Regions from separate parts of the Homo sapiens genome. Here regions 2, 3 and 4 are each reported to be linked to region 1. Evidence: microRNA targets listed by miRTarBase, many of them from high-throughput screens and not tested one by one. Region 1 holds a microRNA gene; each other region holds the end of a gene's coding sequence.
The links. The annotated mature microRNA hsa-miR-1207-5p reads UGGCAGGGAGGCUGGGAGGGG and lies in region 1 at 969-989, shown strand. An mRNA with a match to its seed (bases 2 to 7 or 8) in the 3' UTR can be bound and repressed. Matches are read on the target gene's strand: a 7mer-m8 pairs with bases 2 to 8, a 7mer-A1 pairs with bases 2 to 7 and ends in A, and an 8mer does both.

Region 1 (3,124 bases):
TGCCCATTTGCATTGGTATCTCCAAGGCCAAGCTAGAGAAGGCACACAATAGGCTTTCCACTAATATTTGTGAATGAATGAATGAACAGAGAGAGGAGTTTTCTTTCCACAGTTTCCTTCTACCTGCTACTCCTTGAGCATATGAGGCTGGAATCTAAGCCCTGAGGTCACTCACTGCTCTCCTGGGTACTATCCCTGGCCTCCCGTCCTTTTCCTTGAGCTTCTGTGCTCTGCAAGGCTTTCTCATTATCCTTTAGGCTACAGAGAAACAAGGAGACGGGAGAGCCTTGAAATGGACCTTCAAGATTACAATGTGTAGCTGACATTGTCAGTTAAGTTGGGCAGATCTGACTTCGCTGATTAAGTGGATGTATGAGCCGATCCTCCCCAGAAGCTGGGATCAGCTTCCCCATCTGATGGTGAGTCAGACCTGCTGGGGTTTGGGTCCTCGCTCCAGCATGGCTGCCTGTGTGACCTTGGCCACTTTACTTAACCTTGCTGAATCTCAATTTCCTGATCTGTAAAGGAAGCTAAAAATGCCTCTCTTGAGGTTGTAGTGAGGATTAAATGTGATAGCATAAGTGAAAGTGCCCTTTGAAGAAAGAGGAAGGCGAAAGCGCTTATTGTGTCAGGAGAAATGTGTGGAGAGCCCCCTGTTGTTCTCAGGTGTCTCATCCTTCCCAGGGAAAAATCCCCATGCCAAGTCAGAAGAGGTTATAATTTGGCTCTTACTCTTTTATTCAGGCACTTCTTTCGGCTGCCCAGGGTTTTCAGCTTAAGCAAATAAATTACCCTTCTCCACTGGACTCTGTGTTCTGCAGCCAGCCATATGTTTAAGCTTGATAGAGATTTTTATCTGGCTTGGTAATATTACCCAGCAAGGGATGACATTTCTTATCAGAGGCCCTGAGGAATCAGAGATAGGAGCCCTTTCTTTTTCCTGGCCGCCAGGCCTCCATGTGCAGGGCTGGCAGGGAGGCTGGGAGGGGCTGGCTGGGTCTGGTAGTGGGCATCAGCTGGCCCTCATTTCTTAAGACAGCACTTCTGTTAGCTGACCTACACAGAAGCAGGTCATTTCGAGATGTTTGCGTCTTGGAGCCACTGATAGAAGCAGGGCAAGGGAGAGTGAATGAGGAAGGAAGGCGGGAGTGTGATGACGCATGCCCAGCTTTGCGCGGAGGCAGAGCACTTGCCTGTGTGGGGCCCTGCCCTTCTCTTGAGAGGCAGGCGGGCCCTAGCTGCAGCGTCAAGGTCTGGGGATTCTGTGGCTCTGTAGGGTGAAGGGCACTGGAGACCTACCAGGGGCTGGGCCATTGGAGTGGTGGGTGCTGGGGAGCTTCCGTGGGCCCCTCCAGGTCCACTCCTTGCTCTTCTCTGCCTTGTTTTGTGCCCAGAAGGCTGACCTGTGTGGATGCATTATCAGGGTGGATGCAACACAGGGCTGCCATGCTCTCTGGTATCAGTTTGGAAGGCACTGGCAGGATGGGAAGGCAGGCGGGGAGTGAGGTCAGGGGGCCTATCCTTCCACTGCCTCCCTGCTGCTCCCTGACTGATTCAGGTAAGGTTTACACCGGGGCTCTAGGTTTGAATTTTGATTCTGGCATGTACTTGCTGTGTGATATTAGGCAAGTGGTGGAACCTCTCTGTGCGTCCGACTTCTCATCTATAGTAACGCTTTTGCATTCCATTGATCTCTTTGCCTCTCATTTGCCCTGAATGCTGAAGGAAAGGACACTGCTGTATCCCCTGAGGGACTGTCTGAGCCCAAAGTACACTGGGGACAAGGGCTTCAGGGTGGGCAAGGAGATGACCGATGATCACGTGATTTGGAACTATAGCCTCCATTGGAGACACGTGCTCTGGGCTCTTTCCCTCCTGAGTTTTGGGAAGTCCTGGCCTGTGCAGCCTAATTCTCAAGTACTAATCTTGCAATCATAAGAAGAGGAAGGAGAAGTGGTTTTCCCTCTCCCTGGACCCATTCCAGCCAGCAGTTCCTGACTTTGCTTCCTTCCTGTTGGTGCCCACTCTGTTTCCTTCCATCCCTTCCCCAACCTCTCCCATCCCATGCCTCATGTTGGGCAACTTGAGTTTAACTGTCTCTTCTTCCAGTGGCCAAGTCCAAATTCTGAAAGCACAGTTCTGACCATGTCCCTGTCCAACTCAAAAACAGTAGCTCCGTGTCACCCACAGGCTTGAAGTCAGACCTCTCAGGGGGCATTAAGTCCACCGCAACATCACTCCAGCCTGTGAATAAAGACTGAATGCCTCCGAGCCTCTTATGTGGGGAATCAGTTCTGGTAAACAGGTCTCACTTCTTGTCTTTTAAACACTACTTGCTTTCCTTGACGTCTGTGCTTTGATCCCATTGTTTTTTCTCCCTTGGATGCCTGAGAGATCCATGGGCTCTGGCTTCAGAGAGTGCTGGGTTCAGACCTCAGCTCCAACAGTTGCTGGCTCTGTGACCCTAGGAATGTCACCTCACCACTCCAAGCCTCTGTATCCTTGACATTAACCTGGGCTGATAGTTCCTACCTGCAGGGTTCTTGTGAGAAGAACCTGTCTAAAGGCTCCTACTGGGGCTTGACTTGTCAGATAAATGAATGGGGTTTTCCCTAACCTTCTAATTGACTACCCCACTGATTATTCAAACTCCACCTGTCCTCAAGTTCCATTCCATCATTCACTTCCTCTGTGGGTTTTTCTGCCACAAAGTCATCTTCCTCTGTTTGAAAGACTCTTAGTTCCTCATGTATGACAGCAAGAGTGGACCTCATCTCTTTCTTTTTGTGTCTGACTTCCCAGCACAGTCTCAATTTCTTCAGGGCATTGACTGTGGTGTAAGATTCTCAGCTTGAGCACTGGAACCATTTATGGGACGATTGAGTATTCAACTCCAAGAGAATGAAAGAGAGTCACTTGTTCTTTCATTGAACGAAATTGATTGAGTGCACATGATATGTTGTGTCTGTGCTTCACACTGGAGTTGTAAGGATGCATAAAATGAAGATTCTGTCTTCACATAGCCTATCATCCAGTGAGGAGGTTGCATTATTGGGAATCTGTGCCAAGCCTGGATTGCATAAGACATAGGTAGCTGAGAACCTGGTGCTGACTGGGGACTGGG
Region 2 (3,124 bases), not on the chromosome of region 1:
GGAAAAAATTAATGAATATATGTTTAAACTCCCATCATTTTGCTGTTTTGGCTTATTTATATACTAATAAAATTATTTCTGATAAGCACAAAGTCAATGTATTTACGTACTCTAGAGACGTCTGAGGACTTCTCAAGAAGTCAATCCCTGAAGCACGTCGTCTACTCAGGCTCACGCAACTAGCATCAGACACCCCACCCTGGGCCAGCACCTTCCTCTCACTGCCACCAGAGGCTACAGAAAGAGGTGCTTGTGGTTAAGGTTTTCCAAGGTTAGAGCTAGTCACCCTCCCACAGAAGACCACTAACCATTAGGAAGCCACTTGGCAACCTCAACCTCAGTGAAGCTGTTTGGATGAGTTGCTGCAGAGGGATGTCACAGTTTGTGACTCGCACTCCCAAGGGGAAACATTCTCATTGCTCTCAGTAGAACGCTGACTGCAGTCTATGTGGTGAAGTCCGCCAAGTCATGAATGGCTAAAGACCAGTGAAGCTGCCAAGTCATTCCTTTTGGACTAACCTCCCAAAAGAAGAGCTCCAAGTATAAGAAGAGTAGCTCCAGAGCCAAGGTGAGGAGAGCTGGCGTCTACTCCTTCCCTTCCAGCTCAGCACTCCAGCTGACCTTCCCACACCAGCGAGGCAGCCACAGATGACTGAGACCACAACTGCAGGTTGTACGGGTTTATTGTTCCAATACCACAAGAGACATACAGAAGCAGTGCTTTCTCTGGGCAGCCTCATGGACCAGATCAGTGTCAAACTGTACCCTTGAGTGTCCCCAAAGGTTCCAGCAGAGGGAAGAAGAGGACTGGACATGTTTGGGCCCCTGTTCCCGGTCTTTGGTAAACAGACGCTTAAGTTGACAACTTGGACTTGGCCAATACTGCATTCTAAATCACCACATCATTCCCAACTTGTCACTCATGCTTCAGATGACGAAAATGCCACATCAGATTAAATGAGAAAAAAACCTTTCAGATAAAATGAGACTTGAAGTCATACAAATTTTATACTTGATCTAAATTAAGCAAGAACCCTCAACTCTGTAATAAGTCGAAATACAAGATATAAGGCAGGAAACAAGGCAAGGGAAAACACACACAGGGGCATCTACTTGCTGGAAACATGTTGGGAGAGAGGCAGGAGCAGGCATGGCTTTGTTTCTTCCCAAACCTGCCTGATGTCAAAAGTACGTCAAAAGGAGCCTCACAGTCCCAGGAGAGCATGGTCCCAGGTATTGCTGTGACAGGTGGTGACCCTGGAGCCAGATCTGGAAGGCCTTCCTGGGGGCTGCCCAGGGAACTCACCCATGAATCCAGAAGCACTTAACACTGGTGGTGGTGATTTGTCACATATGGCAGCAAGCAGCCATTAAGGCTGTAGGAGGAGAGATGTGAAAAGCAAGATGCGTTTGCTCGGTGGCATGTGGGCAGGCTGACTGTGGCTCTGCAGGCTGCAGCAGGTCCAGCCGGTGACCCAACAGGGCATCGGGCAACCTGGCAGGTCACAAGTCAATCATTTCACCCTCACGTCGAGCAGCACAGCACTCAGTGGCTCTGACAACAGATGTAGAGAAGGAGATTACACCACTTTAATGCAATGATGCTGAAGATGTAAAATTAGGAAGAGACGTTCATGTTCTCTGTACAATACATCCATTTACAGAATCAGCCAGTACTGTGTACAACATATAAATACATGATAAAACATTAGAGGTGCATAGAGCATACTTACAGAAGCCAAAAAGTTCACTTTATACATCCAAGAATAAAGAGTTAAAAATATAAAAATAAGAAACACACACTGCTTTGAAATGTAAAATGACTTTCACATACACAGGTGCGTGGAGATGCCCACTCCCATAGGGTCCAAAGTGACAGGGAGGATGTCAAGCAGAGGAATTCACCTGCAAACATCTGGACGGCTGACTCACAAGGTCTACAGATGGCATTTTCATAGGAAAGACAACCCTATTCCCCAACCCCATTGTCCAAGCAGAGCTATTCAAGGTTCCAAATGATCCTGTGGGTTAGTGGATCACACTGAGACAGAAAAGTTCCAAATTTGCTTCAGCAACAGAACCAAGGTCAAACTTGCTCCGTCAACTGGCAAATGACTCAACTGTGACCCTGAGGTCAGCAGGTGCACCAGCCCCCTGGTGGGCAATGCCAGGAGTTACTTTAACCCTGTGCTGGCTTCTTTCCTGGCCATCAACTCCCCAAAGTAGCAGAAGAAAAGATGGCAGGGAGGGGGTAGTGGAAGACTGGCATTTCTACTTAGTTCAGGTAGGTTAACTCCCTTGGTGGAGAATGCAACCTTCTTGCTTCAGTTTCAAGTCCCTCTGGGAGTCAGGCAGTCCCCCCACCCCCCGCAACCCCACTCCGTGCCACATCAGGCTCTGTCTTGCAGGAGAGCTCAGGCTGGCTGGCCTTGGGCAGCCCAATGGGTTATACCCAGGAAACCCCTCCAGCAAGACCAGAAGGGTCGCCAAGTGACAGAGGGCTTTAGCAGTGTAAATTTTGGGGGAAGGCAAGAGTGCTCCTGCCTAAAGAGTATTATATCAATGATATTCTGTATACAGATTTAAGATCAATCATTATCAAAATACACACACTAAATATACAATGTTTCCCATGGCCATAATTTATTATCTCACCACAAGGCACAATACACAGAGCTTTGAGGGTCCAATACAGTCATCGTGACAGAACGCACCGCAGCCTTGGCACATGATCATGGCTTTCAGGCTGCACGCACACTGGAGCGAGATGCTTTCCACCGTGCTGCTGTCAGTGAACATTTGCAAGGAAAGTGATGCACTGTGGCTCGCACCAAAGTTTGCTTTGTGGCTCAGCTGCACCACACTTCCAGCAAGGCCTTTGGGAAAGGTGGGAGAGCTAGAGGAATAATTAAAGCTGGTGGAACTCAGTTGGAGTTTAGAAAGCTTCCCATAAAATGCCTGCTTGATGCTGAGTTGGGAGGGGAGAGAAGAAGGCTCCAGAGGCTCACTGAGCCCCTTCCCTGGCTCTCGGGGTAATTTCCAGAAGGGCAAGTCCATGACAAAGGGCATCCCTTCCAAGTGACCCACCAGTTCCAGGGGACTATGCCCAGTAGCTTTCCTGTTC
Region 3 (3,000 bases), not on the chromosome of region 1:
AGCTACTCAGGAGGCTGAGGCACAAGAATCGCTTGAACGTGGGAGGTGGAGGTTGCAATGGGCCGAGATCGTGTCATGGCACTCCAGCCTGTGCCACAAGAGCAAAACTCCATCTCAACAACAACAACAAAAAAGGATGCTTTCTCCAAAATATTTAACCTTTTTCAGTGGTAATATTTGACTAGTGGCAGAAAAATGGAGATACATTGTAAAAAAATTACTCCTTAAAAGAAAGTGTAAGGTTAAAAAGAGAGGTAAATAGATACTTGTTTAGGGCAGAGGCTAAAGGAGAGAAAATAAAAGATCTCAATCTTCAACCCAAAACCAGGCTCTGAATGGCACTACAGCTTGGGGCTTAGTGCCTGGGGTCCTCTCACAGGCAACTTCCAGAGGAGCAAGGCTCAGAGGAGAATCAAGTTTAGGACTTGGGGGAAAAGTTAGGGCTAGGCAGGCAGGGTAGTGCACTGGGTAAGAGCTCAGCCTCTGGGCTTAAACAGGTCTGGGTTTAAGTTCTGGGATCTGCCCCTTAGTGTCTATGGGACCTTGGAGAAACTGCTTAACTTCCCTGAGCCTCATCTGTAATACAGGGATAATAATAGTACCTTCCTCCAACAAGGACGTGCATGTAAAAGGGTTAGCGTGGGGGTCAATGTTCCACCACTCTCCTGTTGCAGAAAAAGGGAAACTCCGGCAGGAGTGGACCTGCCAGAGGTAACCCAGCAGGTGTGGCCATAACTAGTCTCAGGACTTAAGTACTCTGATGCTCAGGGTGAGAGAGGTCCAGTAAAGGGAGCTGGAATCAGAAAGGCTCGGTTACAAATCTCACCCAGCTGTGCTACCTACTAGTTGGGACAGCCTGAGATTGTCTGATTTAAATAAGAAAAAAAAGTTCATACGTCCTCCTCTGTAGAGGCTGAGAAAATTAGATGACTTGATAAAGTGTGCAGGGTCAGTTCCAAGGGCTAACCCGATTAACTTTTACAAACAGCAAATGGGTTGATATTCATGAAGACGCAGGGCCAGAAAGTCAGGAAAACTAGGTATAGGCAGTTCTGGTGATTTCTTTATTCTTTATAAACACCTTTTTCTACAGTACAATTCAGAGAATAAATAGAGGCACACGGCTATAACTTCCACCACAATCTGCTGTTGAAGAGACATTCAATGTGAGGCTAGGGAGCTAGAGGTGGGGGACGTATTTGGGTACCAGGGTAACGGGAGGCCTACGTAATAAACTGCAGAGATCCCATCAGTAAGGTCTGATTGCGGCCTGACGGTCAAGGCTCATGATAGAAGAGCTACAGTGAGCCAAATGCTCCTTTAGTTCCCCACAGTCCTAGAGTAGGTCCAATTCTACCAAAACCCCAGGGGTTCGGGTGAGTCTGATTTATTGGTCCACTGGGAAGAAACTGTGTCAGCCCAAGCCATCCGTATGAATTCAGTTCACTCCATGGTAGTGCCTGAAGTGGCCTAAATATTCTACCCTTTTCCCTGGAGTTAGTCACAAATACAAGTAATAAGATTACTGTTTACATGAGTTTTTTTCTTGATTGTCCCAAAAAGGGATCCTGTTCCCCATCTAAGGAAGGAGAGAGGCACACATGGGGATTATCTGCTCTAAGTTGATGAAAGAAGACAGCCTGTCTTCTAAAGGGAGGAGGAAATAGCACTCTTACCGAATCCTTCACGGGGACATAGGCAGGAATGAATACCAGTCTGATCAGACCAAGTGGAAGCCTGCAGCCATGATTCCAACCAGCATGAGGAGTAACATATGGAAAAGCTCTGCCAGCCAGGCACAGTGGCTCACACCTGCAATCCTAGCACTTTGGCAGGCCCAGGCAGGAGGATCACTTGAGCCCAGGATTTTGAGATGAGCCTGAGCCACATAGCAAGACCCTGGCTCAATTTTTTATAATAATAAAATTAAAGGCTGAGCGTGGTGGCTCACGCCTGTAATCCCAGCACTTTGGGAGACCAAGGCGGGTGGATCACGAGGTCAGGAGTTTGAGACCAGCCTGGCCAATATGGTGAAACCCCGTCTCTACTAAAAAAAAATACAAAAATTAGCTGGGTGTGGTGGCGCGCTCCTGTAGTCCCAGCTACTCAGGAAGCTGAGGCAGGGGAATTGCTTGAACCTGGGAGGCAGAAGTTGCAGTGAGCTGAGATCATGCCACTGCACTCTAGCCTGGGCGAGAGTAAAACTCCATCTCAAAAATAAAAAATAAAATAATAATAATAATAATAAAAAAATTAAAAAAGAAAAGCTCTGGCCTTGACTTTCACAGGGCTGCTGTACTGAGCCACCCCTATCTTTTCCCTATTTCTCCAGAGTGGCACAGAGCACTGGCCCTAAGCTGGGGCTAGGATCACCTGTCCCCAAAGCAGCAGAACGAAGGTTCTGTATCACTTGGCAGAAAATGAAGCAGAAGGGTCACAGCAGGCTACACTGGGTAACCTGAGGTCTTAGGAACAGAGTATCAACCAGTGAGAAGAGGTGGCTCCTCTGTCCTCCAGCACATAAGGGTTAGGGAAAGACAGAACCACCAATGACTGCTGCAGGGTCTGCTGGCCAGCATCCTCAGCACTTTTCTGTGGTCCAGTTCTGGAATGGCAGGTGACAGGGCACATACAAGGCCTCTGCTCCACTGTCATTGTCAACTCATCTCAGCTCTGATTCATTTGTTCACCTCGAATCAACAACAGGGGCACTGGCTTTACCCAATACTTATCAGCTGGTGCCCACTGCGCTGTCAGGCAGTGAGATTTCTGGCTGACTTGGAGGCGCTCTGGGCCCGCTGAACAATGGCAGAACACTTCTCACGTCGCAGCAGCTTGTTGTTCTCAAAGAGACCTTCATTGCGGGGGATTCCATGAGAACCATCAGGGAAAGTCAGCAGGCCTTTGAGGAGGGCAGAGAAAATATGGGAGTGACAATGGCATTAATGTCTCAAAGATGAGACATATCTTTGGCCTTGATATGTCCAGGCCAAAGAAGAG
Region 4 (3,124 bases), not on the chromosome of region 1:
TTAACATTCCTGTCTCTCAATTTTTTTCTTCTGTCAATACCTACCTCAAAAGGTTGTTGAGGGTGAATGAGATGATACCTAGAAATTACTCTGAACAGTGCCTGGAATAGAGTGAGCATCCAGTAAATTGGCTGCTATGACTATTATTAAGAACACCCCAATATTTCCCAGCCACAACTGCCCCAACTGGGCAGGCCATCAACAGCCAACAGGTATGATATGGGGAGTGGTCTTCCATGTACAAAGCTTCTGGTTCCTTTCTTTCTAAGAGATAAATGCAAATGACTCAAGATCTTCTCACAAAGACCATGTACCCATAGATATGGAGTCTCCTGGGGAGAATGATAACCCCTTTGGTACGCTGCAGACATGAGGACCCTACATCAGGAGGTCCTAGCTAGGACAGTCAGTCACCAACCCTGTCACCCTTCGCGTCTACTACATGAAGCATGGGCACAAGAACAACAACCTGGAATTTAAGAACTTTTTTTACTCTGAAAGGAGAGCTAAACAAACCTCTGTTCTCCAAACACAAGATCTCCATCTTCCATGCAGTGAAGAGACCACAGGCTTTGTAAGCAGACCAACTTGAGCTCGTTTTAGAGCAAATCACTGTAACCCTCTGGACCTCACCTTCCTCATCTATATAGAAATGAGAAAGGGGTGCACAGGAGAAGGGAGAGAAGATAATATCTCACTGAATTGTTGTGAGGTTTGAATGAGGCAGGGTGGGGGAAAAGCACCTAGCATAGTGCTTAGCACATCTCAAGCACTGAACTGGTGCTGGTCCCTCTGTCCAGAGATAGGGCCATGGCCTACAGACAAGGTGAACTCATAGTGTCAGAACTCAAAGTCTCAGATACTGAAGGCTTGGGTCCCTCCCTGCCTCCCTCATCCCTCCCAGACCAGCTCCTGGACCCCCTCCCTCATGTCCCAGGCTGCTAAATTGATGAAGCTAAAAGGGTTTTGATCATGTCGGTATATTTATATGTAAATACAAAACTGTATCACTGTAAGATATTGAATATGAACATTACAATTATTTTCTGAATCAGACTCAGTCCATTGATATTAAATACAAAATGAAATGATTGTAAAAAATAATAATATACACATTCAAAGAGCTTATTACAGTATAAAATTATTGAGGTCTGATCAGCTGCCAACCTCATCTTCTGTCACAGGGGAAGGTTTAGGAGTTCCTGGGATTTTTTGGGAATGTGGAGTGCTGAGGACTCTTGATTTATCCCTAGCACATAAGGATGAGTGGGCTGGGAGCAGGCAGGGACAGGTTGGGTGGGTAGGGGACAAACAGTGATTGCAGGGGACCACCTCACTCAGCCAGGGGGTGAAGCTTTTTATTGACACAGAACCCACCCAGTTTGAGGGTCTAGCAGGCTAGCAGGCAGGAAGAGATGGGCATCTCGGTAGACAGGGCCAAGCTGCATAAAGGAACCATCCAGCAAAAGAAAAAGGGCCCCAGCTCATCCTCCCAGGGAGGTATTTTCTTAGTGGTTTTTTCTTTCTCATACCTGGGCTCCCCCTCCTTCCTTCTAAGATTCGTACCGATTGCATTTGGCTCTGGCTGCTCAGTGAGTTCATCTCTACCCTCCGCCTCCCATCCCTGGGATAGTGAAAGCAAAGAGAGAGTATGGAATCACAGTGGAGGTCTGTTCCCCAAATTGGCCAAGTAAATGTAGAAAAATCATCGGATAAGGGAAATCCATGCTGAGCTAACCCAGTGTCACCACAAACTAATACATTCTTGGCTCCAACAGGTGGCAACTGGAAGGAGATAAGTCATTACTTAAGGAAGGGGCCCTGTGGCAGGAACATGGAGGAGATGTGTGTGTGTCCTCTTCCACCACTCTGTAGCCTGACAAGAGGAGACATGATCACCAACCCAAGCTAGTCCAGGATAAATAGTAGGGTCCAAGAAGCAAGGAGTCCTGAACTGCAACACGGAGCCCCAGGAACTTCTGGAAAGGAGTATCGTGTGTATATGTATTTATAGAATACGATCATATTATCACATACAATATATATTATATACACACGTACATATGGACCCATACACATAAGTGCACACACACACACACACAGAATGACAGAAAGGACTGGAATACACGCCCTACTTATAAACGTGCTTGGCACTCAGGACGATCTCTAGAATATGTAACTTGGTCAAGCTCTCTGGGGAGAAAGGCAAATGCTCATCAAACCTCCCCATAAAATCCTAGGAAAGGGAAGGAGTGGGAGACAGGAGACCTCAGAAAAAGAATGGCGGGAGAAAGGAGGAGGGAGGTTCCTTCCCCACTTACCTCGGGGACCCTAGCAAAAATCAATAGCCACAATTTGGTTTTAATAAGGCACAGTTTGATAGCAGATGCTAGGAATTAAGAACACATTGCTACTGGCCCTTTCTAGTGGCAATTTCACCACATTTATCTAGCCAAAGGGAAAGGCTGCCTTGCGTGCACACGTGTGCTGGGAGACACAAGAAAGAAGTTGATCCATGGCTTCAGCGTAACTGATGGCAACCTATAGGCTCAGCGGTGTCCAGGGTAGTTTAAGGAAGGCTGGCCAACAGGTAGGAGGTTCGTAGGAGAGTTACTGACTCTCCACGGCCAGCAGGTTTTGGCCAGAGGATACCATGCCCTCCTTCTCTGCGAACTCCAGGATGGCCTTGTAGCAAAAATAGTACTGCTCAGGGGTCTGGATGCTGAAGGCCCTCTGGGTCCTCATGCGTGACACCGTCTGGAACACATTAAGGGTGCCAAGCTCCTCCAGCTGTGCCAGGCAGATGTCCAGTGAGCAGAAGGTACCTGAAGAAGGAAGGAAGTGATCACATCTGGTTTACCTCTCTTCTCTTCCTCCCTCTACCAAATAACCCAGGCAGAACTGAATGAATGACTTCACAGGCAAAGTGCCTCATGGCAGAAGGCCAGGTGGCCTTAGGCCTGAAAGGACTCAAGAAGGAGGTCACAGGGAGTGTTGGAGGCCAGAGAAATGAGAAGGCCTCTTATTTCTCAGGACATACACTTGGGGTAACAGGAAGTGGAAATGGGAAGGTGACACAGGGGAACTTCCTGCTTCAATCCCAGACAGACAGACTGACAGCACT

Region 2: miRTarBase lists ASXL1 as a target of hsa-miR-1207-5p. Seed matches in the 3' UTR shown: 8mer at 2,239-2,246 and 7mer-A1 at 1,497-1,503.
Region 3: miRTarBase lists MORN4 as a target of hsa-miR-1207-5p. Seed matches in the 3' UTR shown: 7mer-A1 at 2,612-2,618, 7mer-m8 at 2,119-2,125 and 7mer-A1 at 1,830-1,836.
Region 4: miRTarBase lists PTPN9 as a target of hsa-miR-1207-5p. Seed matches in the 3' UTR shown: 7mer-A1 at 1,825-1,831, 7mer-m8 at 1,281-1,287 and 7mer-m8 at 723-729.

Annotation. Positions count from the first base shown.
Region 1 is chr8:128,048,191-128,051,314 of GRCh38, forward strand. MIR1207 (microRNA 1207) reads left to right here and starts at 962; the gene lies at 962-1,048. All of the region lies in intron 6 of PVT1 (Pvt1 oncogene), which reads left to right. RefSeq lists enhancers at 41-2,157, 677-1,222, a silencer at 305-488 and a cis regulatory region at 1,101-1,353.
Region 2 is chr20:32,436,861-32,439,984 of GRCh38, reverse strand. It overlaps ASXL1 (ASXL transcriptional regulator 1), which reads right to left. Exons shown (of 13, transcript NM_015338.6): 13 at 666-3,124. The coding sequence ends at 2,647. Among named protein-coding and RNA genes, the nearest start is that of ASXL1, 80 kb to the right of the region's middle.
Region 3 is chr10:97,613,510-97,616,509 of GRCh38, forward strand. MORN4 (MORN repeat containing 4) reads right to left here. Exons shown (of 5, transcript NM_178832.4): 5 at 1,046-2,902. The coding sequence ends at 2,754. Among named protein-coding and RNA genes, the nearest start is that of MORN4, 18 kb to the right of the region's middle.
Region 4 is chr15:75,466,159-75,469,282 of GRCh38, forward strand. It overlaps PTPN9 (protein tyrosine phosphatase non-receptor type 9), which reads right to left. Exons shown (of 13, transcript NM_002833.4): 13 at 1-2,825. The coding sequence ends at 2,611. Among named protein-coding and RNA genes, the nearest start is that of SIN3A, 16 kb to the left of the region's middle.